Regions from separate parts of the Homo sapiens genome. Here regions 1, 2, 3, 4 and 5 are each reported to be linked to region 6. Evidence: microRNA targets listed by miRTarBase, many of them from high-throughput screens and not tested one by one. Region 6 holds a microRNA gene; each other region holds the end of a gene's coding sequence.
The links. The annotated mature microRNA hsa-miR-511-3p reads AAUGUGUAGCAAAAGACAGA and lies in region 6 at 1,366-1,385, shown strand. An mRNA with a match to its seed (bases 2 to 7 or 8) in the 3' UTR can be bound and repressed. Matches are read on the target gene's strand: a 7mer-m8 pairs with bases 2 to 8, a 7mer-A1 pairs with bases 2 to 7 and ends in A, and an 8mer does both.

Region 1 (5,075 bases), not on the chromosome of region 6:
CAAAGGTTTCCATGGAGAGCAGCACTGGGTGGCACACACTGAAGCTGGAAAACCTCCACCCTAGAGCACATTCACCCCAAATATTCCACCTGGGTGACTTGGGAAAGCGGGCATCAGGCCACCCTCAGGCCAACCACTAATTTTTGATGACTGACTTGTTCTTAAATTGTTGCCCTTTAGAATTTCCTCCCATAGTCTTCTACTTTTTTCTGAGGCCAAGTTTTAAGTGAACACTTGTGTGTGTGTGTGTGTGTGCACGTGCGAGAGAGAGAGAGAGAGAAGGGATTAGACAGCAAGCCCCCACAGGGGCGTAGAGGCACATTTGATCCTCTTTTAGAGAAGATGTGAGCGTTCTTGTGGGGCCCACTGCTGCCGAGGGTGCTTTGGGAATGGGAAGTGAACTGTCCATGCTGGTCCTTACAGCCTTTGCACATGGGACTGAAACTGGTACTTTCAGGGTCTATTTGCAGAACTATCCCAACACCTTTGGAAGCCAAGTCGTCAGCCACCCTCAGACTCTAGTCCCCACTTCCTCCAGCCACGTGGATGAAAAGTCAGCAATTTCCCTTCTGTTCCTGTGACACATGCTCCAGAGGAGAATGACGCCAGCTTCGACCCTGCAGAGGAGGCCCTGACGCTGTATTCATCCTCACTGCTTCCTTCCTTTCCTCCTGTAGGTGTTCATTCAATGATCTGAGCCTTTCAGACCCTTTCAAGGGTGCAGAAATGGAGAATTGCATTTTTTCAGTGGAAATAAAACATGGAGCAAATAATGGCATAAGAAACACAGCTTAAGGGTTGTGGGGATTTAGAGGAAGGAGAGATTAGTTCTAGTTAGGAGAAGTCGAAGAGGGCTTTATGGAAAGGAGGCACTTGAATTGGAGCTTGAAGGATGCTGAGGATAGGATTGTGCAGATGTGTGGTGAATGGAGCAGGAAGTCAGGCTCAATATGCAGAGAAACGATGTGGGGCCAGGGAGAGGAGATGCTGAACCTCTGGCTGGCAGAAGACAGAGTGTACGGGAAGGGCTCCAAGTCATAGCTGAGCACCTTCACAGTGCATCCCATGGGCTGAGATTTCAGTCTAGTGTCTCACAGCACTGTGTCTGACAGCTTTTCACTGTCATCTTAACACTCATTGAAAGGGAGTCATTTTGGGGAAACGGCATGTTCCTCTGATGAACAGAGGAGATGGAATCCTAGGACTAAGTGTACAAGTAAGAAAATCGGGATGATTCCGTTTGGTGCAGGGTAGACTAGATGTCCAGGGAGAACAAGTGGTCAAACTGAGGCAAAGCCCTGGGAACCCTGGAAGTTGCATCAGCTTGGATTGCATCTGGCGTGCAGCGGGGCACCATTGCGAAGTGTACATCAGGGGAAGGGTGTGATTAGAGCTGGGCTTCAGAAATATTTACCGATCAGGCACTGGTTTGTCGGAGGGCAAGAGACAGAATCACTGTCAGGATGTTCCTGGAATATTTCTGGTGAAAGGTAATGACTGGAGGGTGGGGACAAGGAAACAGATCACAGAAGGATTTCTGTGGCAGAACCAGCAGGGTCGTTGTGAAGACTGAATGATGTTGTGTGGCTTAGGCATCACTTTCACACTGCAGCCTCCACTACTCAGACTCCTGGCCAGCACCAGACCAGCACATTCAACAGCCAGGGCAGCCCTTGCACAGAAACGGCCCTTCCGAAAACCCTCAGGGGTGCTGTCTGACAATGGGCTCCCACATGGCTCTTGGGGTGCTTTGTCTTAGATGAAAAATCATAAAGCCATTTACTGTAGGGCTTTCTGCCTTTTATGAGACTCGCCTATGCAGAGTGAAGGTCTGTGGCCTGATGAGCACAGGCATGTAAGCTAGGTAAATGTTTACGTATGTGCAATGTCATTGCATCCTCACAATAACCCCATGCAGCACAGTCGTCCCTTGGTGTATGTGGGGAACTGCTTTCAGGACCCCCAAGTATATTAAAATTTGAGCACACCCAAGTCCTGCGGTTGGCCCCGAAGAACCCACATATAGGATAAGTCCATCCTCCACATACATGGGTTTTGCATCCCGAGAATACTGTATTTTTTTTTTTTTTTTGAGATGGAGTCTCTGTCGCTGAGGCTGGAGTGCAGTGGCACGATCTTGGCTCACTGCAACCTCCACCCCCTGGGTTCAAGCAATTCTCCTGCCTCATCCTCCCGAATAGCTGGGATTACAGGCGCCTGCCACTATGCCCGGGTAATTTTTGTATTTTTAGTAGAGATGGGGTTTCACCATGTTGACCGGGCTGGTCTCGAACTCCTGACCTCAAGTGATCCACCCACCTCAGCCTCCCAAAGTGCTGGGATTACAGGTGTGAGCCACAGCACTGGCTGAATGCTATATTTTTGATCTGCCTTTGGTTGAAAAAATAAAATCTGTGAATAAGTGAAATCATGCAAGTCCAAACCTGTGTTGTTCAGGGGTCAACTGTAGTTCCTATTATGATGTCCATTTGACAGATGAACAAACTGAGGTGCAGAAGTCCCACAACTGATGCTAGGAATGAAATCCAAGCCTGCCTGACTCCGGAGCCAGTGTTGTTAACTGTTCTACTACACTGCTTTCATAGCTCGTTTGTATCAGGCTGTTCTAAATTGACTTTAAAAGCAATAATTTCCTCAAAAAGGAAAAATAAAAGTAAAAACCAAACAAAAAATGTATGTGTGCAGATGTGTAGTTGTGATCTACTCTGAGCATGACACCCAAATCAGAAGGGAAGTTACCACTCTTAGCCAGGTGCTTCCACCCAGGTAAGATCATTGATTCTTCCCAACAGCTCTGAGAGGTGAGTGTCTTAGGGACATGACATCATTACCCGAGGCCACTGAGGAACCAGGACTCTGTGGAACAATGGCTGATGCCACATATGGGACTGGAAGTGTGCAAGATGGGCTGGAAAAGTTCACAGGAACTAATTTGAAGGTCACCCACTGGCTAAAGATAGGGTGATTTGGCATTAAAGAAAAAATTGGTGAGTTGAAACACATCAAATATGTTTAAAATTCTTTGGTGTTTAATATAGTACCAACTCATTCTGAAAACTGGTAAACAAAGGAAACAAAACCCCAAGTAATTGTCTTCTTTCCTGGGCAAATGGTTGATGAGGGAAAGGTTTTATCTTGTTTTATCTTGTTTTCAAGACAAGGTCTTGCTCTATCACCCAGATTGGAGTACAGTGGCAAGGTCATAGATCACTGCAACTTTGACACCCTGGGCTCAAGCAATCCTCCTTCCTTGGCTTCCCAGAGTGCTGGGACAGACGTGAGCCATCGTGCCCAGCCAAAGATTATTATTATTTTTTTTATTTTGAGAAGGAGTCTCGCTCTGTTGCCAGGCTGGAGTGCAGTGGCGTGATCTTGGCTCACTGCAGCCTCTGTCTCCTGGGTTCAAGCGATTCTCCTGCCTCAGCTTCCTGGGTAGCTGGGACTACAGGCGTGTGCCACCATGCCTGGCTAATTTTTGTACTTTTAGTAGAGAAGGGGTTTAACCATGTTGGCCAGGATAGTCTCCATCTCTTGACCTCGTGATCTGCCTGCCTTGGCCTCCGAAAGTGCTAGGATTACAGGCGTGAGCCACTGTACCCAGCCTATGTTTTTTATAGAAGAATTCCAACTAACAAATGCCAAAGGGATAGCAGAATTAGAAAAACACCTGTTCTGCCGCCCCTAATTATAGTGTGGATCTCAGCAATGATCATCAATGACCACTGAAACGATCAGGTAAAATGCTGAACTTTGTAATGAATGATTAAAGCCAAGAACTCCAAACCCACCCAGCAGTCTTAACATTACCAATAGAGAGGCACCAGCATTATCTGCCTCCTGACAGGATGCAACAAGAAGTACCCAGCACCACCTAGGAAGTATTTTTGCCACAAAATCAGACCTCCAGATCTAACTACCATTTTATAGGAAAGATAAGTTCAGAGAACCATGTCAAATGACACCTCGGGATTTCAACCAGCAACGTTCAAATGTGCTAAACTCTGTAGATGGAAAGAGACTTACAGACATTTCAAATAAATGCAATATATGGGCCTTGCTTGAATCCTAATACAAACAATCCAACTACAAAAACAGCCAAACATTTGTGGGACAATGGGAGATGCTTGAATTCCGATTGTATATTTAAGGATGTTAGAAATATTTATGGACAAAATGATGTAATGCTCGGAATTTGCTTCAGAATGATCCAGGTACAGCATGTGGAGCTGGAGAGAGGAGTGGGCAGCAGTGTAGATAAACAGGCCTGGCCGTGTGTGGATGGGTTGTCAGGGCTGAGTGGAGTTGCAAAGGGATTTATTATACCATGATCTCTGCTTGTGCATATGTTTGGAGATTTTCATAATCAAATGTGAAAATTTTTGATTTTCATAATCAAAAATCAATACAAAATATGAATGTATAACGTAATTCCTCCATCATGACGGTGGTGGGAGTGGTGTGTATGTGTGAAGTGTGTGTGTGTGTATATGTGTGTGTGTGTGTGTATTCTCATGTTCTGTTTGGTCTTAATTCAAGTTGCAACCCTGGAAACAGCTACATTCTCTGGAAAATAACTTTTTGTAGGTGTAAAGAATGCCCCAGCCTAACATATTCAAGGTCTGTCAGACAGGCAGGCACAGACACAAGGCCCCTCCTTAGGGGACTGCTGGGGCCAGTCCCACACGGTTATTCCCACGGTCAAAGACTGAGTAAAACTGTCGAATGAAGACATCCCCCAGGATCCAGAGGGGCCCAGCTGGAGGGTGGATGTCAAGTCCTTGAAAGCCACTGCTGCAGAACTGCATTCCATCCACGAAGTCCTGTGGGTTGGAAAGAAGGATGCAAATGACAAACGGGGGAAGAAGGTAGTAGTACTGCCTGGAGGCTGCCTGTGTGGTGGTGGTGGCTGGCACTGGGTGGCCTTGGACAGCTGGTGGGTTCCACCATTTTGGTCGGTGGGTTCTTCCTCCTGCTTCATATGTCCCTACCCTAGGTTGCTTAATAAAGTGTTTGTCTGCACAAGTCCATTCTTATGGGCCTGGGGTCTATGTTCT
Region 2 (5,068 bases), not on the chromosome of region 6:
GCAAATTTAAATATTAGGAAAACATGAGGGTATGTGTGAAGGTTAACAGAGAGTATGAGAGAAAAAAACACTGATTACAAACAAATATCAGCAATATAGCGAGGTCTCATTACATGTAAACTAGTACATGCAAAGAAGTATAAATTGTTGAATTGTATAGCTGGAAATGTCCTCTAACGCTTCCCTCAGGTAGTAATTTAGGTAGCGACATAAGGGATTATTTAACCCGATCACGATCACTGAAGACCCTGGTATCAGGCTAAATGGAGTAAAGATGAGGGCTAGCTCTATAATTTTGGATTTTGAAAGTCCATGCTCCTTATCCCTTTTAAGATTTGGATAAGAAACAGCAAAACTGAAAATCGGTCCATCTATTTACTCTCCATAGGACTTCCTGAATGGCCTGTGTCATGATCAAAGAAATGGAATGGGGAATAAGCTACATAAAATTACCTGGCAGGGAGTTCAGGCATCTCTGTACTATCATTCTTTAAATTGGGATTTGAAACTAACAGGGCCAAATCACCTCTGTCACCTAGTTGCAGTAGCCTCTACAGTCAATAAAGGAAAGAATTTCTGCCAGGCATGGTGGCTCACCCCTGTAATCCCAGCACTTTGGGAGGCCGAGGAGGACGGATCACGAGGTCAGGAGTTCAAGACCAGCCTGGCCAGCATGGTGAAACCCCGTCTCTACTACAAATACAAAAATTAGCCAGGCATGGTGGCACGCACCTGTAATCCCAGCTACTTGGGAGGCTGAGGCAGGAAAATTGCCTAAACCCAGGAGGCGGAGGTAGTGCAGTGAGCCAAGTTCACACCACTGCACTCCAGCCTGGGCAACAGAGTGAGACTCGATCTCAAAAAAAGAAAAAAAGAAAGAATTTCTACAAACAGACAATTTATGTGACTTGCATAGGATAGGGTCTTTGGCAGTTTGGTGGCTACCTAGTAGAGAGTCCTGGGGACATGGCTCTGGGAGCAAGCTTTTCCAGTGAGCATCGATGAGTCAGTAATGACATGCTATGTTGGTAAAAGCCACCCAACATCTTAAGTACATTTTTCCTGTGCCATATAAATGCATGTATTGAGCCATACTGTGTACAAAGCACTTTGGGGATTAAAAGTTAAGAACACTAGGCCAGATCTCTCATGAGTTTACAATCTCTTAGGAGAAATTAAGAACATAAAGCAAGCCACAAGTGAAATGCCAAAAAAAAAAAAGGCAAAAATCAAGTTTTCTGTTCATAACAATTCAAAAGAAAGATTTCTTCCAACTGAGGCAAGAAGAGACACCCGGAAGGCTTTAAGTAAGAGGCTGCATTTGAACCAGCCGTTAGGGCTCTAGGCTGGGAGAAGGGGTGAGCAGAAGGAGAAAAAAACAAGAAAGAGTATGTGCCAAGTGCGTAGTGCCCAAAACAAGGCCAAATATTAAATGCTTGGAGCTGAGAGAAAAATGTGATTCCTCTGGCCTATGGTTAGATAAAGCTTTCTATCAGAGATGATGTTTTACTTAGAGGAAAGCAGAAAATAGAAGCGAATACGGAATGATCGATGTATGTACAGCATAAGGTCAGGGAGCAGATAGGTCTGGCAGAGAGTGAGGGGTAATGTGGGCTGGAGAGGAAATTGGAAGCCACTCAGTGAAGCTAAAAAGTCAGCCAAAAGCATTTGATTTCCATGAGAAGTCATAATTTTCTGAGTAAGACAATTCTCCTAAAGCGTTGACTCTCTAGGCACAAGCAGCAATAGCATCCTTTAAGAACTCATTAGAAATGTGAATTTTAGGGCCTGATCCCAGACTACAGACTACAGAAATTGAACAGTCTGTTTTAATAAGTCCTCTAGATGATTCTGCTATACACCAACATTTGAGAACACTGTGACTTACACAATTATGATCCTTAAGGGAATAGCCAAGTTTCTAAAAAAGATAACTTAGTTCTAACTCCTGCTGCTGTTTTACAGATCAAATCTCTGGAGACAGAAACTATTCTCTTAAAATTATGTAGATTCATGAGTTTGGTTAAGGATAAATGTACATAGCTCACATCCCCTCAGTCTCTCCCTATAGTCCAAAGTTGTTGAGCAAGGAATCTGTAGAGTATTGATTTAAATTGATTAAGTTACATGTTTATGAAACTCTAAGAGACTAGTTTTAGAAATTTCACTGTAATTTCTGCTGGGATAAATTTGTTAGCCTGGGATATCTTCCAAAGATAAGGCGGATGCTCAAATATGTGTAAATTCATGCAACTGTTAACAGAGACTGTGCTGTAAGGAGTACTTATGTCCTATAGTAATTTTATTAAACAAATACATGTATGTCTCCTTTTGATGTGTACAGAAATATACTGTTTAATCTGAAGAAGCTGATTGAAACAGGAAAAATTTAAAAAGTAAAAACACTCAACCCATGTAATACTTTATTTTTATAACAAGGTGTTCTCTTTAATACGCCTATTAGATTATCCTGAAGTTCTCTATTTACTCTTACTTTAAAAAAAATCCAATGAAAGAAAATTTCAGTAAAGTTTGTTTTGCTAGAAGAATCAGGATTCTTGTACTGAGTTGTCTAATAATATGAATCAAATTGATTTACACTGAATGAACTAGCTCTTGATTTGGTAAAATTCAACAAGCATTTATTAGGTGCTTTCAGAAATACCAAGATGCAGCAAACACTGGCAACTAATAAAAAAAATTACAAGTATAATAGTATTTCATTTTTTTTAATAGTAAATGATCATGTGTTGTGTTGTGTGGCAGTTCACTTTTTCCTCCCTACTGATGATTCATTCAAACAGCTAGGCCATCCCATGCTCACAGCCTAGAGGAGGAATGAGACCAGGCATAGTATAGAAACACACCCCACTTTGTTCTTCAAAAACTGAAGGATATTAGAGAAAATGAGAGGAACCCAAAACCAAAGTATTTGAGAGAAACATTAAATGTGAGTAATAGGTTTGAGAAAAAAATACAGCTTTTCCTCAGTATTTCCAGAAGCCAGGAGGCAGCAGCAGACATGATGTCATTAGAGTGGTCAGACTGGTGGTACCCAGTGGTGGGAAAATGTGAAACACTGTAAGTGATCACCAGCCTAACAACAGCCACCAGCACTGGAAGACCACTCATCTTTATTGAAGTGGGCACTTCCCATCTCTAACACCCTGGTTGTCATTCCCATTGGCATCTGGCAAGGACTTCCTGTGAACTGCCACCAGCTATTCTTCCAGTCACCTCACAGAAAGACTATGCACCAAGACTTTTCTTGGTCCTTGTCTCATTCATTTCCATATGAATCCCCCTAGCTGTTGCATCCAACATTCTGAAACATAATCCTAAAACTAAAAGGAGATTGAAACCCTAGACACATATAGGTCCAGAAAAAGTAGCAAAGTGAGAGTCCTGTCTCCCTTCTCCTCTCTCTCACCCTCTGTGTGTGTGTGTGTGTGTGTGTGTGTATGTGTATGGTAGCAAATGAATCAATTTAACATCCTCTTCAAAATAATAGAGTTCTTAATAGAAACCTATTACAAATAAGCAAGGTTTCAGCTTTGCTGTGGAGAGAAAATGAGAGTTAATGTATTGAAACTCATCGTTTTTTCCAGAACCTCCAAGCTCTGGTAATGGTCAAAATCCACTTGACCCTCCCTACCAAACATTTTGAAATTATATGAGGATGGAGAAGGGACTCCTTATTTTAAATGACAATGGGAATTACAATGATGGCTTTGGCTTGGAGTTATTATTGCTTTTCCTATTCTCAACAGAGTTCTATCAGGTATCATGTGAAATAGTTAACTTCAACACCAATCTTAGGAGTACATACTCATTTACAATGCATGAGAACCAAAGACTTATGGTAGACAAAGAGACTGCCCTATCTCATTTCTTTAAATAAAGCACATCTCAGATATCCTACTTCTGCAAGTGTTTTCCTTGTGAAAGTCTTTTCTTTGTGAAAGGCTAGAGTACTTCCATTTTTCCACCTCTAGTATTTTCTAATCATAAGACCTCAGGAGACAAGTGAGAATGAACTATCTGTTCTGGTCTTACTCACATAAGCAAGAAAAGTCTATTATTGCTCATTCACTGTTCTCACTTACTTATGAATCATATTTAAAATATTTAGTGATGGCTTCTGATCGTCAAGGTACTGAAGTATATAGAAATTGGTATATGAGTGACAAAAATGGAGTTTATTTTGTTTCCCAGGCCTAGATTTTCTATCTAATGATAATATTTACAGTTTACCTGGATTTCTCACTGGAAATAGAATAGTTAAGAGTGGGAACTACTTTAGGGTTGTTTTAATTATGCTTTAAGATGAAACACAATATTTAGAAACATCCTCAAATGTAATACCACTTTGTTTTTTTCAACAATATATTCTTCTTAGTGACTGACATTTCAAACAGGCTTTCTTAATTATTTCTTTTTATTTTAATAAAGCAAAACTACAGGTAAATGTTTTGCCAGATGACTTTTGTGTACTTATGTTCTAACATAGCACATGTTTGGCACCAAAAGATCTTAGAAACTACTATGAAAAACCATAAGATTTTAAGTAGTTTTCTGACAGAAATGAACATTTCTGTTGCATCCCTACTTGTCACTGGCTTTCTTAAACACAGAAATATTCATTTCCATAGTCTTTATCGCTTTTTGGAGGATCTCTAAGATTGGTCCCATAGCCTTGACAATTTGTTCCAACAAATCTGCTGCTGACTTTGTGGGATTTTTGGAATCCTCAGTTTTTAGTACATCCTGCAGTTTTTTCAAGGTGTCTATCATAGTGGTTTTGGAAGAACCTGGAGGACTTCTGGTTCTCTCAGATGTGGTGACATCTGATTGCTCTTTGGTGTCTTCTGTATAGAAGTCACTTAATTGAAGATTCATGATGGGGAATTTCATCAAGTGTGAAAGAGAAGATTCCAGACTCCCAAGGATGTTACTGCTGTTTAGCACAGAGATGATGACTGGCGTATGGGCACTTTTGAATACTTCTTTAGCTGACTGATGCAACTCCTCTACATTGGTACTCTTCTGAACCACAGAGCACATGGCC
Region 3 (5,075 bases), not on the chromosome of region 6:
ATGTAACAGGAAGGAAAAGAATGTTGCTTCAAATCTCCAAAAAAAAAAGTTTATTTATAAAATACTGACAGTTTGACAGGACACGGGACTTCTTGTGGTATATATTTCAAATCAATTTCTTTCTTACCTTTCATTTAAAAAATAAACCTGCTAACACGCTATATGACATAGAGATATATATTTTTTTCTTACAGACAGACACCTGCCATAATGAATACTCTCCCCATAATTTTTTGTTATATCTTTTAAATCAAAAAATAAAGATTTGTGTTGATTTTTGTTTCTGGAGTCTAGATGGATGGAGAAAGGTAACACGTTTAAATGCTTTTGGTTATTCTGATGGAAACAAAGAGAAGGGGGGTGGTCCCGAGGGGGCACCTGTGCTCAGGTGGTGGTCAGGATTGCCATGTGCGCATGCCCATGGGTGTCCCTGGATAGGGCCATACAGAGGCACTGGGGAGCGGGTGGCGGCTGCTCAGATGGTCTCCCCTTTACCTTCCTGCCCACCAGCCCCTCACCCAGGGTAGGCACCTTCAGATGTGCACTCTGGGAAGCTGAGGGAAGCCCCTGCCCAGCCAGAGTGGCACTGTGGTGAGGCTCTGGCACCTTTAGAAGCACTGCCCAGGGAGGCGTGGGCAGCAACAGAAGGCCTTGAGGCAGCGTGCACCAGGTGGGGGCAGCCCCCGCTGTGTCCTTGTTTCCTCTAAATCACGGCAGTGCCAGGTTTGGGGGTAGGAGTTTTGGGGGCCGGGGGGTGAGGGATGGACAGAAGGGGAGGCAGCCTGGGTTTGCAAACTCTCTGGAGCCCTAGGAGGATGGTGGTTCTGGAGCCCAGAGCATCTTTTTGGTTTGTCTTGGCAGTGTGGGTGTGGAGCTGACGTCAACTCTGGAGGCGCAGCCAGGAAGGGGAAAGCCCTGGTGTGCCCAGCATGGGCTCCTGGGTGCAACACTGGGAGATTGCTTAGGGCACAAGGAGGCAATGCCAAAGGTGCCAGGTGTGTCCTGGTGTGAACCTGCTTTGGGTGGAGTCCCACAGGCAGGGGCCCTGGCATCACTGGCACGGAAAATCACAGGCCAGAAAGGGTCCCACTCTTTCTACAAAGGGCAGGGCCCACCACCCCTTTCTAATGTGGCCAGGTTTCTGGGAGGACGGTTGGGAGCCTCGGCTGTGCCAGTAGATATGTAAACAAGGGCAAAGAGACGTGTCCTGAAAAAATCTAGAGTTCCACAGCTGCAGGCCTGGGCTTCCAGCTGTGGCTGGGGCTGTGGAGACAATATTCCAGATGAGTGGGTATTGACTAAGTGTGGGACTTTCACCATGGGCCCAGCCTGATCTCATGGGCTTGTCTAAATTTGCGTGGTGTCCTCACCCTCTCAGACAATAGATCCCAGCCACGCCCCAAGTGCAAGCAACCCAGGCCACCTGTGCCTCACAGGGGAGAGATGGCTTCAGCCATCAGAGGGAGTTCAGGAGTCTCTTTGCTAACACACATACAGATGTGTGTTCTGTGCATATTTGTGTGTGCATGTGTGTAAGCACAGGCGTGCATGGGCACCATCCCGCATGTACACGTAGGTGTCAGCATGGGTGCGAATGAGCGTGTGGGGAGTGGGGGGGTGGAATATCTTAGTGCACCAGGTGATTCATTAAAGGCAAAGGAAAATTGACCTCATGTGCAATATATACACAGACACAATGTTTTTACTCACTCCTGCTTCCTCCCAAATAATCCCTCACTGGGCTGGGCTTAAATAATTCCCTAATGCAAACTGGGAACTTCCTTAAATGGTTAAATGCTCAGCAGAGAGGGAAAGGGATGAAGTTATTTAAAAAAAAAAAAAAAAAAAAGATGAGAGGAAAGAAAAGAAAGCTGTGCGGCACGATCACAGGCCGGCAGCTGCAGATGTGCTGCCATGGAGATGCCAGATGCTGCAGAGGGTGGGGGCGGAGGTGGCAGGGGTGGAGCAGGTGTCCAGCTGACTCCACTGCAGCCCCCAGACAAGTCCAAGGAGGCCCCGAGAGCACCTTACTTCCTGGAGGGGCAGAACCTCAGCCCTTGGTTCTCCTTTGGGGAAGATTGTGCTTCCCTTCCCAGGCCTCCTTATTGGAGAAACCGCTTTTTGGACACTGGAGCTGGGCTGGCCTGTCTGCTGAGCCATCTTCCAGCATCTCCCCGTTCACATTTCCCAGGGGTCAAGTGCTTCAGGAAAAACTCATGGCTGGGTGTGCCCGTTCTTTGGGCCCCAGACCCTGACTTCCCTTCCCGGTCACCATTAGCACAGTGACTGACTTGGGGCTGTAGGAGAGTGGTCCAGGCTCTCTCTTACCTTGGCATGTTTCCCAAATCTCCTACTTGGGCTTCCTTGAACTCTGCTCACCCACCCCAACAGAGCATCATCTCTTGGGCAGGGCCAGCAGCGCCTGTACACAGTGCACAGAGGGAGCCCTGCTCCACGAAGGGGCTCACGCTGAATCAGACAGGCCCCTGTGGGCCATCTGCCACCCATCTCAGCGGTGGGGCAGGTGTTGGGCTGGCCTTACAGGGCTGGCTGAGGGCACAGAGGGCCTTGGACAATGTATGGAGTTAGATAGAAAGGCTTCTCCCTAAACCCTGGCATCCGTAAGTACCAAGTGGACGGGAAGATCCTGGCCACTGGATGTGGCTTTTTGCAGAACACTCCTTGGAGCAGATTGTGTATGTGTATGTGTGTGTGTGTGTGTGTGTGTGTGTGTAAAAGCATTCCCTCCCATCAGCTATTCTTGTCACTTGGTCCCATCTGACCTGCCCCTGCTGGGCGTGCAATTCAAATGCTGGGTCCACTTTGGACTGAGCTTCCTGACCTGCCCCTTCCCCTCCCCGCCCTGGCCAGGCGGAGCCCAGCCTGGAAGCTGTTACTGGGGGTTAGGGTGTCTTTGCCTTTTTGCCTGTAAACTGGGTGCTAGGCTGACTGAGCAAACTCTGGGTATTCCAGCCTCTGGACCAGGGACTTGGGCCACCCCTCTGGGCTCCTGTGCCTCTGTGCTTAGGAGGCTGCCGGGTGGCAGTGAGAGGGACACAGATCTGAAAGTGAGTGTGCTGTCTGGCTAGGAGGGCCCAGATGAGTTTGTTCTGGAGAGGATCCCTAGACCCTGTTCCTTGTAAGTGCATGGGAGATGTGTGTGTGTGTGTGTGTGTGGTGAGGATCTATCCAGTGGAGAGTGACGTGTCTGCCCAGAGGGAGATCCCTCAGCTGTGCCCCACTCCCCAGCCTTGGGAAGCTGACTACCCCTTTAAAGAGAGGACGGATGGAACCTGGATTGGAAGAAAGAGAACAGTCAAAGTGTCATTCTTATCTTGCCCACAATGCGTTAAACCTAATCATCCCACAGTGCCAAGGCCAGTCGCCTTATTTACACCTCTGCTCCCCAGACTTCACCTTTCCTTGTCCATGCTCAGGAAAGTCAATTCCAGCACAGGGAGGCAGGGGTCAGTTGTGGGGGGTTTCTCCCCTACCCTTGGGCTCTCTTCCTTGGATTCAATATTTTAAAAAATATGCAGGAACAAGGAAGGCGCTAAGCAAATTCTCACCCTTTAGTTTTTTGTTTTTTGTTTTTCTTCCTTTTTCTAAATAAACCAAATGCTTGGTGGAGAAGTTGAGCAGGGGAGATGGGCAGTAGAGGTTGCCAAGACAGGGCAGGGGGTCTGGATGAGGCTGTCCGATGCCTGCCAGCCACAGTGATGGTGCATGGAGGGAAGGAGGAGCAGAGAGAGAAGATAGGCGTGGCCTCCGGGATGCCCATTCTTTTTGCAGAGAGCAGCGGCAGTGGGTCCAGGGGTCCTGGAGGGGCTGGAAGGGGGCAGCTGGCTGGACATCCAGAAGCTTTTTCTTCCCTCGGCCACGCCTGCCTGGCGGCCTCCAGTCCTTAGCCTCCGCTCCCTCTCTCTCTCCAGATGCCCGCCCCACTCCGTGTCCATAGCAGTGACACAGCCACTTCCCCAGCTCCGTGTAATTCCCAAGGGAGCAGTGAACCCCACCATCTCAAAGCTGAAGAGCTGCTGGCCACACACATCCTCTCACGGTTTTCTCCCTCCTTCTGAACGCCGGCTTTGCTGGCCCTGGAATCTCTGGAAAAATAAACTCAGGAGGTGAAAAGTTGACTTGGTTTCTTGGTGTTTTTGTTTTCTGGCAGGCAGTGAGAGGAGGGGTGAAGGAGGAGTTTGGTGCCATTTCTCTTTCTGCTTTTTCCTCTTCTGATGTCAAACAAATGATGAAAATCCTGCTATGGGAGCCCGGGAGCCTGGGGCCAGGCTGCTGGGGGGACGGTAGAGGGTGCTCTGCTGACTTGGGGGGTTAGGGGGGTTCTGGGGCGTTGGAGTCCGACTGGCCTTGGGCCGAAAGAGGCTGCCCTGCTGGGTGCTGGTGCTGTTGGTGACGGTGGTGTGGTCTGGCTCACCCGAGTCGCTCTCCGTGTAGCTGTAGGCCTGTGCCCTCGAGATGCCCTTCTGCTGTCGCCGCCACGAGTTGTAGTATGTGGGGTCACTGATGTAGTGGTTGACAAAGGAGTGGGCCTTCTGGTGGTTTGAGTCGACCTCGTACTCGCTGTCACTTCCCTGGGAGGACAGAGAATCAGGGTGTGTCAGTGGCCCCGTAGGGACAGGCCATTGTGGTTGGGGCCGGAAGGCACAGGGCATTCTGGTTCAAAACTCTGCTCTGCCTCTTTCAAGACTTGGACTGTGGGCCTCCCAGCCCCCTCACTGCCAAGGGGGTCTGGTGCCCGTTTGTGCCCGCCTGCTGCTTCCTTCACAGCAGATCCGGAACCGGAAGGATCTACTATGGGGTTGGCCCAGAGCTGGGAGATACCTGATAGAATCAGAAGACCTGAGTTTTTTTTTGTTTTTGTTTTTGTTTTTTTTTTTTGAGACAGAATCTCGCTGTTGCCAGGCTGGAGTACATTGGCATGATCTTGGCTCACTCCAACCTCTGACTCCCTGGTTCAAGCAATTCTCCTGCCTCAGCCTCCTGAGTAGCTGGGATGACAGACATGTGCCACCACGCCTGGCTAATTTTTTTGGTATGTTTAGGGGTTTCACCAT
Region 4 (5,075 bases), not on the chromosome of region 6:
AGAAGTTATTTTCAGAGTGGCAGTCGGCCTGTGTGCATTGAGGCAGACTGTAGCAAAACTGTGGGTGGTGCTCAGGAGGCCTGTCCCCTGGACTAGCAATCTTTGCTCTCCACAATGCTGTCTCCTTTAGAAAGTACAGCAAACCACTACTCCCCACAAACTTTAGGATTTTATTTTCTTACTGCAGTTGAAGTAAATACACCGAACCCACTGGTGGCCCTTCTGCTTGGCAGACATCAGTCTACCTTTGCTCTAGGCCAGAAATGGCCAAAACATTCCATTCCTGTACCTGTGCATGCATTTTGAGAGATCCTTAAACTAATGGTAAAGGGTAAAAAATGCATCGGTGGTTAGGGACATTCTTATTTTCTCTTGTTGAGTGGGGGCAGCAAACTTCTACATGGGAGCCAAGATGGGTGGCCTCTTCTCTTCTTATACCTGTATTTCATATCAAGTGAGCTTAGGAGGATTATATTTATGTCCATTTATATTTATGTCCCCAATCTCTAATTCAATTACATTCAAGATATACTATGTTATATATTGGGAGAAAGGATACAGGGGATTAGCAGAATGTAAAGCAGGAAGGATAGTAAGTGGCCACATTATGGAGGCCTTGAATAGAAAGCTCAATCATGATGTTCTCCACATGTGTACTTAACGTTTTTACTTATGTCGTTTCCATCTGTCTTTACTGTTCTAGGATTGCGGTGGTCTCCTGTCTGAAGGAGATAACCAAGGCTGCTACCCCTTGGATGGGCACATCCTCTGCAAGACCTGCAACTCTGCCCGCATCAGGGTGTTGACCGCCAAGGCGAGCACTGACCTTTAGATTCAGTCACCTGTTCAGCCGGCACTGAGAAGAACGAACACAAGAAAAAGATAAGAAATACTAGAGTAAAGGCCATCAAACTACGCGATAGTCTCTGTTCTTCATCTGCTATTAACCTTGCCTTAGAAACACATAAATTATGAGATTTTTTTTAAAAGTTGTTACCAAATACACATTTCACATTGAATCATGTAGGATCTTGATGGGCCTTTGTTCCCAAGGACTTCCACATTTTTGCACAGATTATGCTCCATCCCATTCACTTCTGCATTCCTGTAACTTTTAATCCCTATGTTTGTCTCACTTTTCATCTGGTTGAATGGCTTTTCTTAGTGTGGTATTTGCTGTCACATAGTTTTTCCTGGGTGAGTCTGCCAACTCACAGGTGCTTTTAGGCTTGAAATCTCCATCCTATCATTTCCGTTTTGCCTGTGACTGTAAAGAGTAGCCATTCTTTTCCCATGTATTGAAGAGGATATTCTTCTCTTGCTTTATACTACTCACGTCCTTGGGGAGGGAAATGCACAATTTTTTTTTGTTAGGCTGTAAAGAATTTAAGCTGTAAATTACATAAGTTAGAACAAGCCCAAATTTAATTTGCAACCATCAGAATTCAGAATCTATAGTGACCAGTGATCAAGGCTAATTGGAAAAGAGTTATCGGCCCATAGCTAATAAGTAGTGACAGACAACCAAGCTTCAATATTTTTCTAAAGAAATTACAGGTGGGATATGCTAGAAAAGGCATTTTGGGGTTATGTTTAAAAAAACATTATTGTCCCACAATATTACCTTAAGATTTTTCTTTTCCGCACTACCTGAACATTGTAATACAGACAAACTTGATTTCTTCTAGAAGATAACATTTTCAATACTGTCCCACTTCTCATCTTAAAAATATTGTCATGTTTATTCTAATATCCAACACAACTATCAAAATTGCCTTTTTCTCTAGAGGATGAAGGCTGTGAAAAAACCGTTCAAATTCTCTTCTTTTTCTTTTTTATTACCAGGTCCATTTTGCCTGACAATTGCAAATCAGAGCATACAAAATAAAACTGTGCAGTTTTGTTTGGTTTACTTTCAAAAGAGTAGAAAGCTTGAAAAGATTCTGAAACCACAGTTTCATTATTCTCATAATCCTTCTGCAACTGAAATTACATATTGCAGGAGACATTTTCATATCATCAATGTGACATTTACACCACACTTTCAAAGACAATCACTGAAACAAAAATTGTCTTTATGAGCTAAAAATATGCAGAATCTCTGCCTAGAATCTTTATTCAAACTTTTATTAGCCAGTGAAACACTTGCTTGCCAACTGCCAAGCCATACTTATTAAGTTCGAACATGTTTCACTTAAGGAGAGACACCTAGCTTAGTCATGGCAAGTTGCCATTTTGTAAACTAAGGATTTTGGACTGAGATTTCTTAAATCTTTCTTCAAATCTCCCACAAGTATATACTTTTAAATTATGGAGTATTTTAAGTCTACAAAAAGGTATAAATAATAATATAATGAATTCCTATATACCTAATACCCAGTTTAAGACACCAAATATAACAAGTATAATTACATCCTCCAATGTACCGTTTCCTTATTCCACAGATATCTTTTTCATTATTGTGAAGTGATGTTCAGATTTCTAGTTTTTTTTCTAGTTTTTAATTTTAACATCAGAACTGAAATAAAAAATTATGGATACGTGTTTTGAATTGCAAACTATTCCTCAGGAATTCCAATTAAATTTATTTTACTTGAATAGGAATGATCATAAAAGTGATTCTTTTTTTGTGACTAGAAATTCTTAAGCCGATGGTCACTATAGCTCATCCTTAATGTATGGCTCATTTGCTTTTGTCACTAAACGGTTTTGTGTTAGAACCACCAAAATTATAGCTTTTAAGAGCTTCCTTTGACCACTGTCTTTTTCTTACCCTAGTTCTCTTATCTTTGATCGTATATTTCTCATAATGTGAAATATGATGAGATTCACTTAGGGGCAGCATGTTAGTTTTGGGAGGCAATGTCAACTGTGTCTCTGAATTCCTGTCTTCCAAATTGAAGCCAGACCATGCTGATGACCTCAAGTAGCACTGACTATTTGACAATAGGGCTGATAATGTAATCGGCTTGAATTTTGACTTAGTAACTTTTTATGTAATACTTTCGGAGAAATTCTCTTTAGGACAAAGCAGAGAGTCCAATTTATTGAGGGATAGATTGTATCTCTTAAAGTGGTCATATTATTATTAATTTTGCCAAAAGAAGAAGAATTTATTGAATATTTATACTATAAAATGCAGTAACATTCTACTTGCTTATTACATTTAAATCCTTGTGTAACTGAATGTTTACATGTCAAGAGGAAAAGCTGTAAGAAAATGCTGTCACAGACCCATCCCTGTGGCATCGTCAGCAGAATACTGCTTGCTTACAATCTTTATTATGCATTCTTATAACATAACCTCAGAGTATCTTTACCAAAGGTTTTTAAAGTAAATCTCTTTTTAAGATAGACTTATTCTTTTATAATAATGAATGTGCACTCATACATATGTAGAAACATTTAGATTTAGAGTTTTTTTTTTCTTTCACAAGGTATAATAAGGAAAGGATCCTACAATATTTTATTCTAGGGTTTCTTAAATATATGATTTATATTACTGTCTTTTCTATTAATCATTTGATTTAAACAATGCCAAGTCACTCTTTTTTAGTTGCATGAAATTTTGCCTGCAACAGAGAGAAAAAGATTGTATTACTTTAATGATTATAATCATACTGTCTGCTGATATAATATCATAATTGTTGTGGTTTAAATACATAAATAGTAGAAAAATCAGAGTCTATAACAGAAAGTTTGTAAAAATATACTGATTTTGAAAAGTATCAGGAATATAAATATTTGGTAATTCTGTGTAACAAGAGAGACATGGAAAAGGAAAAAAATCCACTATATCATGGGCTCTGCAGAACATATCAAAATAGGATTTCTTAAATTTTTCAACCCCCAGACCATACTGACTCAACATGGAGTCTCACTGGCCAAGAAAATTGCCTTTAAAACTCGAAAATAAGGCCAGGTGTGGTGACTCACACTTGTAATCCCAGCAATTTGGGAGGCTGAGACAGGAGGATTGCCTGAGGCCAGGAGTTTGACACCAGCCTGGGCAACATAGTGAGACCTTGTCTCTACAAAAAATAAAATAAAATAAAAACCAAATTAGCCAGACATGGTGGCATGCGCTTGTTTAAAAAAACAAATAAATAAATAATCGACTCAAAAATAAGTCATGTGTCCCAGCATAAGGCATCAGGTTGTTAGATGCTGGCATCTCTGCAGCTCAAAGATGTGGGTTCTTTTTCTTGTCATTAACACATTGTTATTTCTGTAGGAGCAACTTCTCTGATCAAAATTACTTTTCTGGGTATGTGCTGATTAAGGGGGTGGACTTATCAACACTATAATTGTTCCCTATGAAAGATTCCACAGAGATGTTTATGGTGAGGTTTAAAGGATATGAAACTCTACATTTAAACAAGTATTTTATATTTGGGTACAGAGGAAGAAAGAGAGGGCTTTTTCCATGGGGCTATAGTAGAGAGTTAGTGGAATATAGACAGGACTCTGAAAACACAACTTCCAGCCATTTTTTTAGTTAGTAAAAATCCTATTAATGTGAACCAGCCAGGAATAACAGTGTTATTTCTATTGGATATGGTTTGGGCTTCTCTTGTCAAATCTGTGTCGGCTGCCCCCTGATCCTTCCATTATCAAGTTTTGAAGGGTGTTGGGGAAATTATGGCAGCTGCTAGGGAGATCAGGGAAACACTGATGTAACCTCAAAGCCTCTCACCATTCCTCTTGGCTTGGAAAGGCTTTATTTTTTCATATACATTTCTAGAAATATTGCTATTCTACCTTAGTATTTCACATTTGTAGTTCAAACAAGCGATTGTCCATCTGTTGCCTAGAGCTATAGTACATGTGTGTTATGAATGAAATATGACAGCATGTTCCATACCCCTGCTTTAGCCATCTGTGGGAAACCAGCAAACTGAAAAAGACACCTCTGCAAAATGTGCCTCAAGTCCATTTCTTGGGATCGCTCGTTTGGTGCACTCTCGTGGGAGACAATCAGAGAACAACATATACTTGTGCCTTATTTTCAAAGAATCTATTTACACTACTATGAATATTCCACTGAAGAGTCAATGATGTAAATGATAACCACC
Region 5 (5,075 bases), not on the chromosome of region 6:
CCATCTCTACTAAAAATACAAAAATTAACTAGGCGTGGTGGTGTGCGCCTGTAATCCAAGCTACTTGGGAGGCTGAGGCAGGAGAATCGCTTGAACCCAGGAGGCGGAGGATGCAGTGAGCCAAGATTGTGCCATTGCACTCTAGCCTGGGTGACAGAGCGAGATTCCGTCTCAAAAAAATAAATAAATAAAAAGAAATAAGGACTTTCAAGCCCCATCCCAGACATTCTGAATCTGAATCTGCATTTTTGAAAGATGCGTAGATGACTCGTAAATTAAAATTTGAAAAGTACTGGTATAAGAGATCTCAGAGGGTCTCTTAGAAGCACCCCCCGCCCCACATTCTACCTAGAATTGAATTGAGGCCTGGCCTTTCCCAGGGCTTATGGGTCAGTACAGTCATTGATATTTTTTTCTTTTTTCTTTCTCTCCCATGCTAACCATAGCTGAGAAGAAATGGCTTTGGAAAGAATGGCTTCTTGCAGAGCCGCAGTTCCAGTCTGTTCTCCCCTTGGAGAAGCACTTGCAAAGCAGAGTTTGAGGACTCAGACACCGAAACCAGTAGCAGTGAAACATCAGATGACGATGCCTGGAAGTAGGCATATAAATGCTCACAGTTAAATCTGACCCAGTAAACTCTGTGTGTTTAGGGAGTATACAAAAGAAATCGTTCTTTTCCTTTTCTTATGTTGTTGAATACTTCATTCACAAGGGAAATAATCATATCCCAAAGAGAGAGCAATTGGCTTGTTTTGCTTTTGTTATTGTTCTTCCCTGTTATCTGCTTTATAGAGAGAAGTTTGTGTGGTGGGACAGATTTTTTAAACACACTCACACACACACACACATACACACCCAGTATATATGGGGCGATGCACAGGTAGGAGCTGGCAGTGCAGGGAAGAGGAGACACTGGTCTGCAGCAACAGCTTCTACTACCAGCCCTTGGGGCACTCACCCCTGTGATCAAGCAATCATTGTCAATGACAAAGTGACTATTGAAGTTATAATTGTATTAAATTAATGCTAATAATTTGGATATTTTATTTTATTTTTGGCTGCTCGGGTAACTTTAGCCCTTAACCAAGCATATGTGGGTTTTTTTGGTTGTTTTTTTTTGTTTTTTTTTTCTTTTTCCTTTTTGGGTACAGCTGTAAAATATTTGGATATAGGAAATGTTGTGTTATTCTTGCAGCCTTGATATTCAGGGTGGATTGTAAAATATAAATTTTTGTGAGATTTCAAAGATTAAGATTATTTTGATAACATTATTTACAGATTTAAAAGATGTGGTTATCACAAGTCTCGAGGGGGAAACTACTGCATAAAATAACTAACTTGGAATAAATATTTTGCATCAGTTTGGATTGTCTTGTGTAAGAAGTATATTTTCTTTAAAATTAGATGAGTGGATTCTTTTTTAGGGGAAATATTTTTAGAAGTTGGGGGGAAATGTGAATTCAGACACAACTGTTTCTCTATTTTAGCAGATACTTTTTTGATGCAGAAAAACCTGTGCAATAAATTACCAGTAATAAAGTCAGAAACCAAGTTTTTTTTTTTTCCTGAAACTGTTTTTTAGTGCCCATGTATTTACCAGTGTACGTATTTTAAGGGAAGTCTGTTCTGTTTTCCTACTAAATAAGAACTTGGAGTGGGGGTTGGGGGAGAGTTGGACGATGGTAGCTGAATGGCTAGTGAAGGAAGCAGGTTTTTTCATTCAACAAATACTTTTTTTTTTTTTTTGAGACGGAGTCTCACTGTGTCACCCAGGCTGGAGTGCAGTAGCGATCTCAGCTCACTGTAAGCTCCGCCTCCCGGGTTCCCACCATTCTCCTGCCTCAGCCTCCTGAGTAGCTGGGACTACAGGCGCCTGCCACCACGCCTGGCTCATTTTTTGTATTTTTAGTAGAGATGGGGTTTCACCGTGTTTGCCAGGATGGTCTCGATCTCCTGATCTTGTGATCCACCCACCTCGGCCTCCCAAAGTTCTGGGATTACAGGCGTGAGCCACCGCACCCGGCCCATTCAACAAATACTTTCTAAGCCCGTGTTGTATGTCCCAGGCATTATGCAAGGCTCTGAGGATGCAAGGAGTGCCCAGCCCAGTAGGGGAGAGAATAGACAGTGATGTAAGAAAAGGACAGGGGTTCAAGACCAGCCTGGGCAACACAGTGACCTGTCTCTATAAAAAACAAAAACATTAAAATGGTCAGGTCCAGCCAGGCGTGGCTCACGCCTGTAATCCCAGCACTTTGGGAGGCTGAAGCGGGTGAATCACCTGAGGTCAGGAGTTCGAGACCAGCCTGGCTAACATGGTGAAACCCCATCTCCACTGAAAATACAAAAAATTAGCCAGGCATGGTGGCGGGCGCCTGTAGTCCCAGCTACTCGGGAGGCTGAGGCAGGAGATTGGCGTGAACCCAGGAGGCAGAGCTTGCAGTGAGCTGAGATAGCGCCACTGCACTCCAGCCTGGGAGAAAGAGTGAGACTCTGTCTCAAAAAAAAAAAAAAAAAAAAACAACCAGGCATGGCAGCAAGCACCTGTAATCCTAACTATTTAGGAGGCTGAGGCAGGAGAATTGCTTGAGCCCAGGAGGCAGAGGTTGCAGTGAGCCCATACTGCACCATTGCACTCCAGCCTGGGCAACAGAGCAAGACTCTGTCTCAAAAACAGAAACAAAATAGACAGGTCCACGTGGTAGCACACACTTGTAGTCCCAGCTTCTTGGGAGGCTAAGGCAGGAGGATTGCTTGATTCCAAGGCAGTTCAGGGCTACAGTGAGCCATGATGGCACCACTACAATCCAGCCTGGATGACAGTCCTGCTCCCGCCTCTTCGGCCTAGAGCAGGAGATTAGAGAACTACAAGCTGTCTCTTGAGGGAAAAAAAAAAAAAATGGTAGTAGTATTTCTACTGAATGCCTATCACTGTTGCACCATTGTAAAGTCAACCAGTCAAAAGTCTTAACCATTGAAAATTGGGACAAACTTAGTTGTTGAAAAGGAGGTTTTGATTTGGGCTTTGCCATTTACTTGTTTTCTGAGAACATATTTCTAAAAATGTACTCTTTATGTCAGTTGGAATTAAGCTGAACTGAGATGACATACTTTGAACACTTTGTAACTTGCTGCTGGTGGGTCATACCTTGGCTTTAGGTACTGAGTAGGGAAATGTCTTAAGTCCCTGTCTTGTTTAGAAAAGGGAGTTTCGGCCAGGCATGGTGGCTCACACCTGTAATCCCAGCACTTTGGGAGGCCGAGGCGGGGGAATCACGAGGTCAGGAGATCGAGACCATCCTGGCTAACACTGTGAAACCCCGTCTCTACTAAAAATACAAAAAATTAGCCAGGCATAAGGCTGGGCGCAGTGGCTCACGCCTGTAATCTCAGCACTTTGGCACGCCGAGGCGGGCGGATCACAAGGTCAGGAGATCAAGACCATCCTGGCTGACACGGTGAAACCCCATCTCTACTAAAAATACAAAAAAAATTAGCCGGGCACAGTGGTGGGCACCTGTAGTCTCAGCTACTCGGGAGGCTGAGGCAGGAGAATGGCTTGAACCCGGAAGGCGGAGCTTGCAGTGAGCCCAGATAGTGCCACTGCACTTCGGCCTGGGCGAAAGAGCGAGACTCCGTCTAAAAAAAAAAAAAAAAAAAAGCCGGGTGTGGTGGCAGGTGCCTGTAGTCCCAGCTACTGGGGAGGCTGAGGCAGGAGAATGGTGTCAACCTGGGAGGCAGAGCTTGCAGTGAGCCGAGATCGTGCCATTGCACTGTAGCCTGGGCAACAGAGCGAGACTGTCTCAAAAAAAGAAGAGAAAAGGGTGTTTCTTGGCCGGGCGCAGTGCCTTACGCCTGTAATCCCAGCACTTTGGGAGGCCAAGGCGGGCAGATCACGAGGTCAGGAGATCAAGACCATCCTGGCTAACATGGTGAAACCCCGTCTCTACTAAAAAATACAAAAAATGAGCCAAGCGTGGTGGTGGGCACCTGTAGTCTCAGCTACTTGGGAGGCTGAGGCAGGAGAATGGCGTGAACCCAGGAGGCAGAGCTCATTGCAGTGAGCTGAGATCGCGCCACTGCACTTCGGCCTGGGCGACAGCGAGACTCCATCTCAAAAAGAAAAAAAAAAAAGTAAAGAGGGTTTCTTAAGAAATATGCGGTCACCTCAGAGCTCCTCCATATATTTTGGGAGTGGGAGTGGAGTGAAGAATTTCACCAACAGTTCAGGGTCTTTCTGGCTTCTGGCCAATCTTGGGAGAGAGAAGGGGTTTTTTTCTGGACTTGATTCCCTCATCTGATAGATTCATTCTGTTCGCCCACAGCTTTCATTTCTTGGGCTGTGCTGATTATCTTCGTCTACAGCTGAAAAATGAGGAATCAGGGAATGGGAGTTAGGGAGACTGCTATCCCTGGTGCGACATGGTTTCCAGGCAGAATGCTGGAAAGGTCAGAGTGCCTCCTTTGCCAGGTAGTTCTCTGGATTGGAGAATGGTACAAACTGTTACATCCACTTGGGAGTACAGCAATGAAAAAGATGACACTTGCCTTTTAGAGGCTATTAAATGACCAATGATGTAGTAAGTGATAAGGGCCCAGCCTAGTCTAGGAGGCAGCTGCTTTTTCCTCTTTATTAATAGTCAGGGAAACCAAGCTACAATTAGAGACTTGCCCACGTTCAGACTTTGTAACACTTTTTCAAGCCAGTGGCTCCTCCCAAACGGCCGAGGTTTCCCCACCCATTCTCCTGACCTGCCCAGCCCTGTGGTTGCTGTCCAGGGAGCTAAGGCTCTCCCCAAACAAACTTGAAGATCTCACAGACCTAATAGACACGGCCTTTCCTCTCTGCCTCTGGCTTTATGTCTCTTTCATCCTCCTCTGCCTTTCCCCTGCCCTTGATCCCTTCTGCAGGTCTTGGCTGGTTTCAGGAAACGGGTCCCATCCCATGGACTCCCACTCTGGGGAGCCTGCGCTCCTGCCCTGTGGGACCTGTGACATGGTTTTCCGCTCCTCAGCTCTGTTAGCCACCCATACTCAGCGCTTCTGCATTGGCCACCCGACCCAAGAGATGACAT
Region 6 (5,075 bases):
TTAGGTTATTACCTGCTCCAGACTTTGTGGAGCAGGTAATATGATTTCCGTCTTGCAGGAAAGGAAGTGACATTCAGGCACAGGTTACATACACATTGGAGGTCACAAAGCATAGGTATTAACAGAATGTGGCTCATTCACCCTGTCTTCAGGTGGAAGGTGAAGCTAGTTTGGGGAGTACTGGTTTTTAAATCATATATTAGAGTAGCAAAACGCATGTGAAATGTATCAATGCCTACATTCATCCCTTTAGCAACGTTGACTTTATCTGGTTCTTTAATCAGTTTCCACTAAGAAATGGATAAGGCATAGCTGCTGAAAGTCTTCTTCAGTAGGCTGAGTTGAAGATATTGAGACAGTTTTAGTTCTGGGAGCACAGCATGCTGCCCATCTAGCTCTCCCATTAGCTTTTTCTCCTCCATTTATTTTTATTTTTATTTTTGAGACAGAGTCTCACTCTGTCACCCCGGCTGGAGTGCAGTGGTGTGATCTCCACTCACTGCAACCTCTGCCTCCCAGGTTCAAGCAATTCTCCTGCCTCAGCCTCCCAAGTAGCTGGGATTACAGGTGCCCGCCAGCTCCCCGGCCGATTTTTTTGTATTTTTAGTAGAAATGGGGTTTCATTATGTTGGCCAGGCTGATCTCGAATTCCTGACCTCAGTTGATCCATCCGCCTCAGCCTCCCAAAGTGCTGGGATTACAGGCGTGAGCCACCGTGCCCTGCCCTAATAATGTTTAGTGTGGCAGGTTTGGAACATCATGTATTCTTTCTTTTTAATAAATTCTACTTGTAGATTCAGAGATACATGTACACGGTTGTTACATACCTAGGTAAATTGCATGTTGCTGAGGTTTGGGATATAAATGATCCATCCCATCAACCAGGCAGTGAGCATAGAACCCAGTAGCTAGTTTTCCAAACTTTGTTACCCTCCATTCCTCCCCCATCTCATAGTCCCCAGTTTCTGTTGTTGCCATCTTTGTGTCCATGAGTACTCGGTATTTAGCTCCCACTTAGAAGTGAGAACATGGCTATTTGGCTTTCTGTTCTGCATTAATTCGCTTAGGATAATGGCCTCTAGTTGCATCCATGTTGCTGCAAAGGACATGATGATTTCATTTTTTTTTATGGCGGCATAATCATGCATTCTTTTCATTAGGTACCTCTCTTTGATAATGTAATCCGTTGTGACAACTGTTCAAGTTTTAAGGTGTAGCTTTATTAGCTGATAATGGGGGAAAGGGTTGTTTCAAAGAAGTATATTTGCTTTATCAACATTCTAAGTATTGGAATGATCCAACGATAAGAAAACAATAGACACCCATCGTGTCTTTTGCTCTGCAGTCAGTAAATATTTTTTTGTGAATGTGTAGCAAAAGACAGAATGGTGGTCCATTGAATCCCCAGGATGAAGACATGAGGAGACGTGGGAGGGATGCTATCTGCTGGGAATAGCTATAATAGTCCACTTTAACTTTTCCTTTTCCTCGAAGGAAGTCCATCAGCTGAACCTGGAAAAAGCTGTGTGTCACTAAATCCTGGAAAAAATGCTAAATGGGAAAATCTGGAATGTGTTCAGAAACTGGGCTATATTTGCAAAAAGGGCAACACCACTTTAAATTCTTTTGTTATTCCCTCAGGTAAGTGATCTATGGGATCTGAAGTGCCTCAACTATTAGAATTGAAAGATAAGTAACATTACAGCTTAGGTGTAACTGTTGGAATGCCGCCAGAGGTTTTGTGGATAGTTGATGGGGTAAACTTAATGATATTACTGCAATATTTCTGTGTGCTGGTTGCTAGTATTTCCTGAGTGTGCGGCGGTGTCTGGGCATTGTGGAGATCCTCTGACCTAAATAAAAATGTTACCTTCCCAATCAGTCCTCTGAGGTAGGTGTCATGATTCACATGCTATAGTTGAGGAAAAAGATATTCAGAGGATACAGAAACCTTGCAGACATGGCAAAACCGGAATCCAAGCTAGAAAGTCAACATTTGGAAGGGATGTTTATATTAGGTCCTCACGGCTCTATCTGGGCTTCCTTGCTATTCAGTGTAGCGTCTTATACTAAAGTTTTCATAAAATAGAATAAAATATCTAAAAAGTTGTAACTGAATTTTATTTATTTATTGAGACAGAGTCTCATTCTGTCACCCAGGCTGGAGTACAATGGCGCGATCTCAGCTCACTGCAAACTTCGCCTCCTGGGTTCGTGATTCTCCTGCCTCAGCCTCCCGAGTAGTTGGGATTACAGATGTGTGCCATCACGCCCAGCTAATTTTTGTATTTTTAGCAGAGATGGTGTTTCGCTGTGTTGGCCAGGCTTGTCTTGAACTCCTGACCTTGGGTGATCTACCCACCTCAGCCTCCCAAAGTGCTGGGATTACAGGCATGAGCCACCGTGCCTGGCCTGTAACTGAATTTTAAATATCGGCTAGACTTCAAGAAAAAAAAAAATCAATTGTGTTGTCCCTTACAATTTTATAGGAGAATAAACTACTAAGGCAAGAATTCTTTCTTCCAATTGATGAAAGACAAACTACATATTTTTTATTATTACCTCTTTTTGGAGGGACAGCGAATGCTTTAAATGGTTTAATTTATTTCTGTTTTTCTGCTGGAGGAAACTGACAATGTGGCATTCTTGTTTTTTTCTTCCCATTGGCTTTGAAAGCAATTTCATGTATTTTAAAATACGCTTGACATAGCTAGAGATTCAAAAGATACAACATGATAAATAATAAGGTTTTCCCTACCTCTCACCTGTAACACCCAGTTTACCTTCCTGGAGAATAATTGTTTCTGGGTGTGTATCCTTAGTTATTCTGTGACTATATAAACAAATATATTTATAATTATTTTTGTTTCATACAAATGGCAGTATACTATAATATGTTTTTATCCTAAGTTTTCCACTTAACAACAATTTTGGACATCATTCCACGTAGAATATAAACAGCTTCTATGTTTAATTTTATGGCTGTCCAAAAGCTATTGCAGAGACAGCACATATATTTTTTTGACCGATCTCCTGTGTAATGGATTTTTAATTTAATTTACTTCCAATCTTTTATTAATACAAACAGTCCTGAGGTAAATAACTATATACATTCTATGCACATCATTTCATGCATGTGATCATTCCTGGAAGTGGAATTGTTGGATTAGGGAGGAGATGTGTTTGCAATTTTAATTGATATAGATTTGGCCAAGATCCTAAATAGATATAGATGCGGGACCTGGATGTTGGGTTTGATTATCCTTTACAGGCTCTCCATAGTGACGGTGGGTATCTTTAGAGAAAGCTCACCATTTTTGCATTTTACCTCTACTATTCCTCCTCTAGGAGAAATAGTGTATTTTTTCCTTTTTTGGAAGCCTTCATTACAATTCTCTTTCTAAGACTTGGAATTTCCATGTTGCCAAAGAGGAGAATAGTTACTTTATAGTTTCTCTGGTACAGCACTCAGAATTCTGTAACTTGGCCTTACTGCTTAACCTGCCGGTGCTGGGATCCTCATGTGTAAAATGGAAATGTTCATGACTCTTCTTCCTGAGATAAAATTTTGTTCATTTCATCAAACACTCAGTACATTCTTATTCCTCCATGATGCCTTCTTCACTCGCTAACCACTTGATGTCAGTTTCTGAACATCTCTATACTCCCTGGATTAATGATTCTGTTTTATCTATAAACTCAAATAAACCAGAGCTTGGAAAAGCGTATCAGAGTTCAAATTATGCAGCATACGGGATTAGCAACAGCCTTAGGCAAGAATTCAACCTCAAACCCTGTGAATTATTGTAACACTAACCCGTTTGTCCATAATCCTCAGGTCTCTAGGGCTGTACTCTCTGGCTTAGCAGCCACTTAACCGCATGTGGCCACTGAGCACATGAGCTGTGGCTAGAGGAACAAATCATCTTCTGTGGCTGCCCCAGGGAACTCCCCTTCATTTCACTCAAGTTGGTTGTTTTCATGCTTTCAAATATGTTTAAAGTTCATCATTTCAGTTTTTGAAGGACAGCATTGGCTGATACTATTTTCAATTTCCTAGGTAGCAAAATTAAAATAACCCACCAGAGGGCTCCAAAGCTGTACTAAGCTTGCTTTCTTTTTCTTTTTCTTCTTTTTTTTTTTGTAACCACTGGAAGTGCACAGAATCTAAATTGTATTGAGGGAATAGAATTTTTTTAAATATGCATTTTTTATTACAATTGTACAGCATTTGAGCCTCATGACTGAGTAGTTACTTGTATGACTGCAGGGCACAAAATCCTGGGCTTAAACAATGATGTTTCAGATACTCTCCACCTTTAAGGGAAGATACGACCAATTCATCAAAGGAATAGTGAAGAAAGGTACCCTATAACGAACATATACTAAGACAGCCATTTGAAAACATTTAATATGAGCTTAAATAATATATACGTTCACTTTCATTTGGCAATATAGTCCCCTTCTAAGCAAAACATGTTGCCAAATTACTGTTTGAAATAGTATCTCTAGAATAGTAATAACAAGCAGCCATATATCAACTATAACTTCAATTCTTTTTCTCTTCCAATACTCAATACGCTTATATGTACCAGGCCCTGTGCCAGGCTCAAGGCAATAGGGATGAATAAACATCTGCCTTCAAATGTCTTTATTGTCACTTTCCCCTAGCTCATTACTATTAAATTTTTGCAGCGTATAATCAAGATTATACAATTTGATCCTATTAGTAGCGAGGCTGAGGATGTTGACAGCTGGTTTAATTAAATAATGATTGTGTGGTGCTTGTGATTTACAAGCACACTCTCTCTATTCTTTTCTAGTTCAGAAGAACATGGGGTGGGTGGTTTGATATTAGTGTTAGTACTAATCTCATTTAAAAATTTTCACCTATATGGGTACTCCTTTTCATGTGATGTGACTTGCCGAAGATCACACAACTTACCGCAAATTCAGGTTTTAGGAGTTATGACTCCAGATCCCTCTCCTAGTCACAAGCACGTGTCAGTTTTGGGTAGCAACTAAATGGTAGTGGGTCTGTTCTGAGGCAACAAGTGGCTGACTCATGTGGCTAT

Region 1: the mRNA of CTSE is a reported target of hsa-miR-511-3p. Seed matches in the 3' UTR shown: 7mer-A1 at 4,508-4,514 and 7mer-A1 at 4,483-4,489.
Region 2: miRTarBase lists C12orf60 as a target of hsa-miR-511-3p. The part of its 3' UTR that is shown has no 7-base or 8-base seed match.
Region 3: the mRNA of SDK2 is a reported target of hsa-miR-511-3p. Seed matches in the 3' UTR shown: 7mer-A1 at 2,704-2,710 and 8mer at 2,698-2,705.
Region 4: the mRNA of LPP is a reported target of hsa-miR-511-3p. Seed matches in the 3' UTR shown: 7mer-A1 at 961-967 and 7mer-m8 at 1,002-1,008.
Region 5: miRTarBase lists GPBP1L1 as a target of hsa-miR-511-3p. Seed matches in the 3' UTR shown: 7mer-A1 at 844-850.

Annotation. Positions count from the first base shown.
Region 1 is chr1:206,005,507-206,010,581 of GRCh38, forward strand. It overlaps CTSE (cathepsin E), which reads right to left. Exons shown (of 9, transcript NM_001910.4): 9 at 3,758-4,841. The coding sequence ends at 4,677. Among named protein-coding and RNA genes, the nearest start is that of RAB7B, 4.6 kb to the left of the region's middle.
Region 2 is chr12:14,823,211-14,828,278 of GRCh38, reverse strand. It overlaps C12orf60 (chromosome 12 open reading frame 60), which reads right to left. Exons shown (of 2, transcript NM_175874.4): 2 at 3,864-5,068. The coding sequence ends at 4,606. ART4 (ADP-ribosyltransferase 4 (inactive) (Dombrock blood group)) reads left to right here. Exons shown (of 3, transcript NM_021071.4): 3 at 1-2,710. Among named protein-coding and RNA genes, the nearest start is that of SMCO3, 12 kb to the right of the region's middle.
Region 3 is chr17:73,334,349-73,339,423 of GRCh38, forward strand. It overlaps SDK2 (sidekick cell adhesion molecule 2), which reads right to left. Exons shown (of 45, transcript NM_001144952.2): 45 at 36-4,592. The coding sequence ends at 4,239. Among named protein-coding and RNA genes, the nearest start is that of CDC42EP4, 25 kb to the left of the region's middle. RefSeq lists an enhancer at 2,384-3,283.
Region 4 is chr3:188,873,648-188,878,722 of GRCh38, forward strand. LPP (LIM domain containing preferred translocation partner in lipoma) reads left to right here. Exons shown (of 12, transcript NM_001375462.1): 12 at 704-5,075. The coding sequence ends at 832. Among named protein-coding and RNA genes, the nearest start is that of TPRG1-AS1, 71 kb to the right of the region's middle.
Region 5 is chr1:45,623,780-45,628,854 of GRCh38, reverse strand. GPBP1L1 (GC-rich promoter binding protein 1 like 1) reads left to right here. Exons shown (of 13, transcript NM_021639.5): 13 at 447-1,551. The coding sequence ends at 599. It overlaps CCDC17 (coiled-coil domain containing 17), which reads left to right and starts at 4,801. Exons shown (of 13, transcript NM_001114938.3): 1 at 4,801-5,075. The coding sequence starts at 4,946.
Region 6 is chr10:17,843,795-17,848,869 of GRCh38, forward strand. It overlaps MIR511 (microRNA 511), which reads left to right and starts at 1,313; the gene lies at 1,313-1,399. MRC1 (mannose receptor C-type 1) reads left to right here. Exons shown (of 30, transcript NM_002438.4): 6 at 1,495-1,641.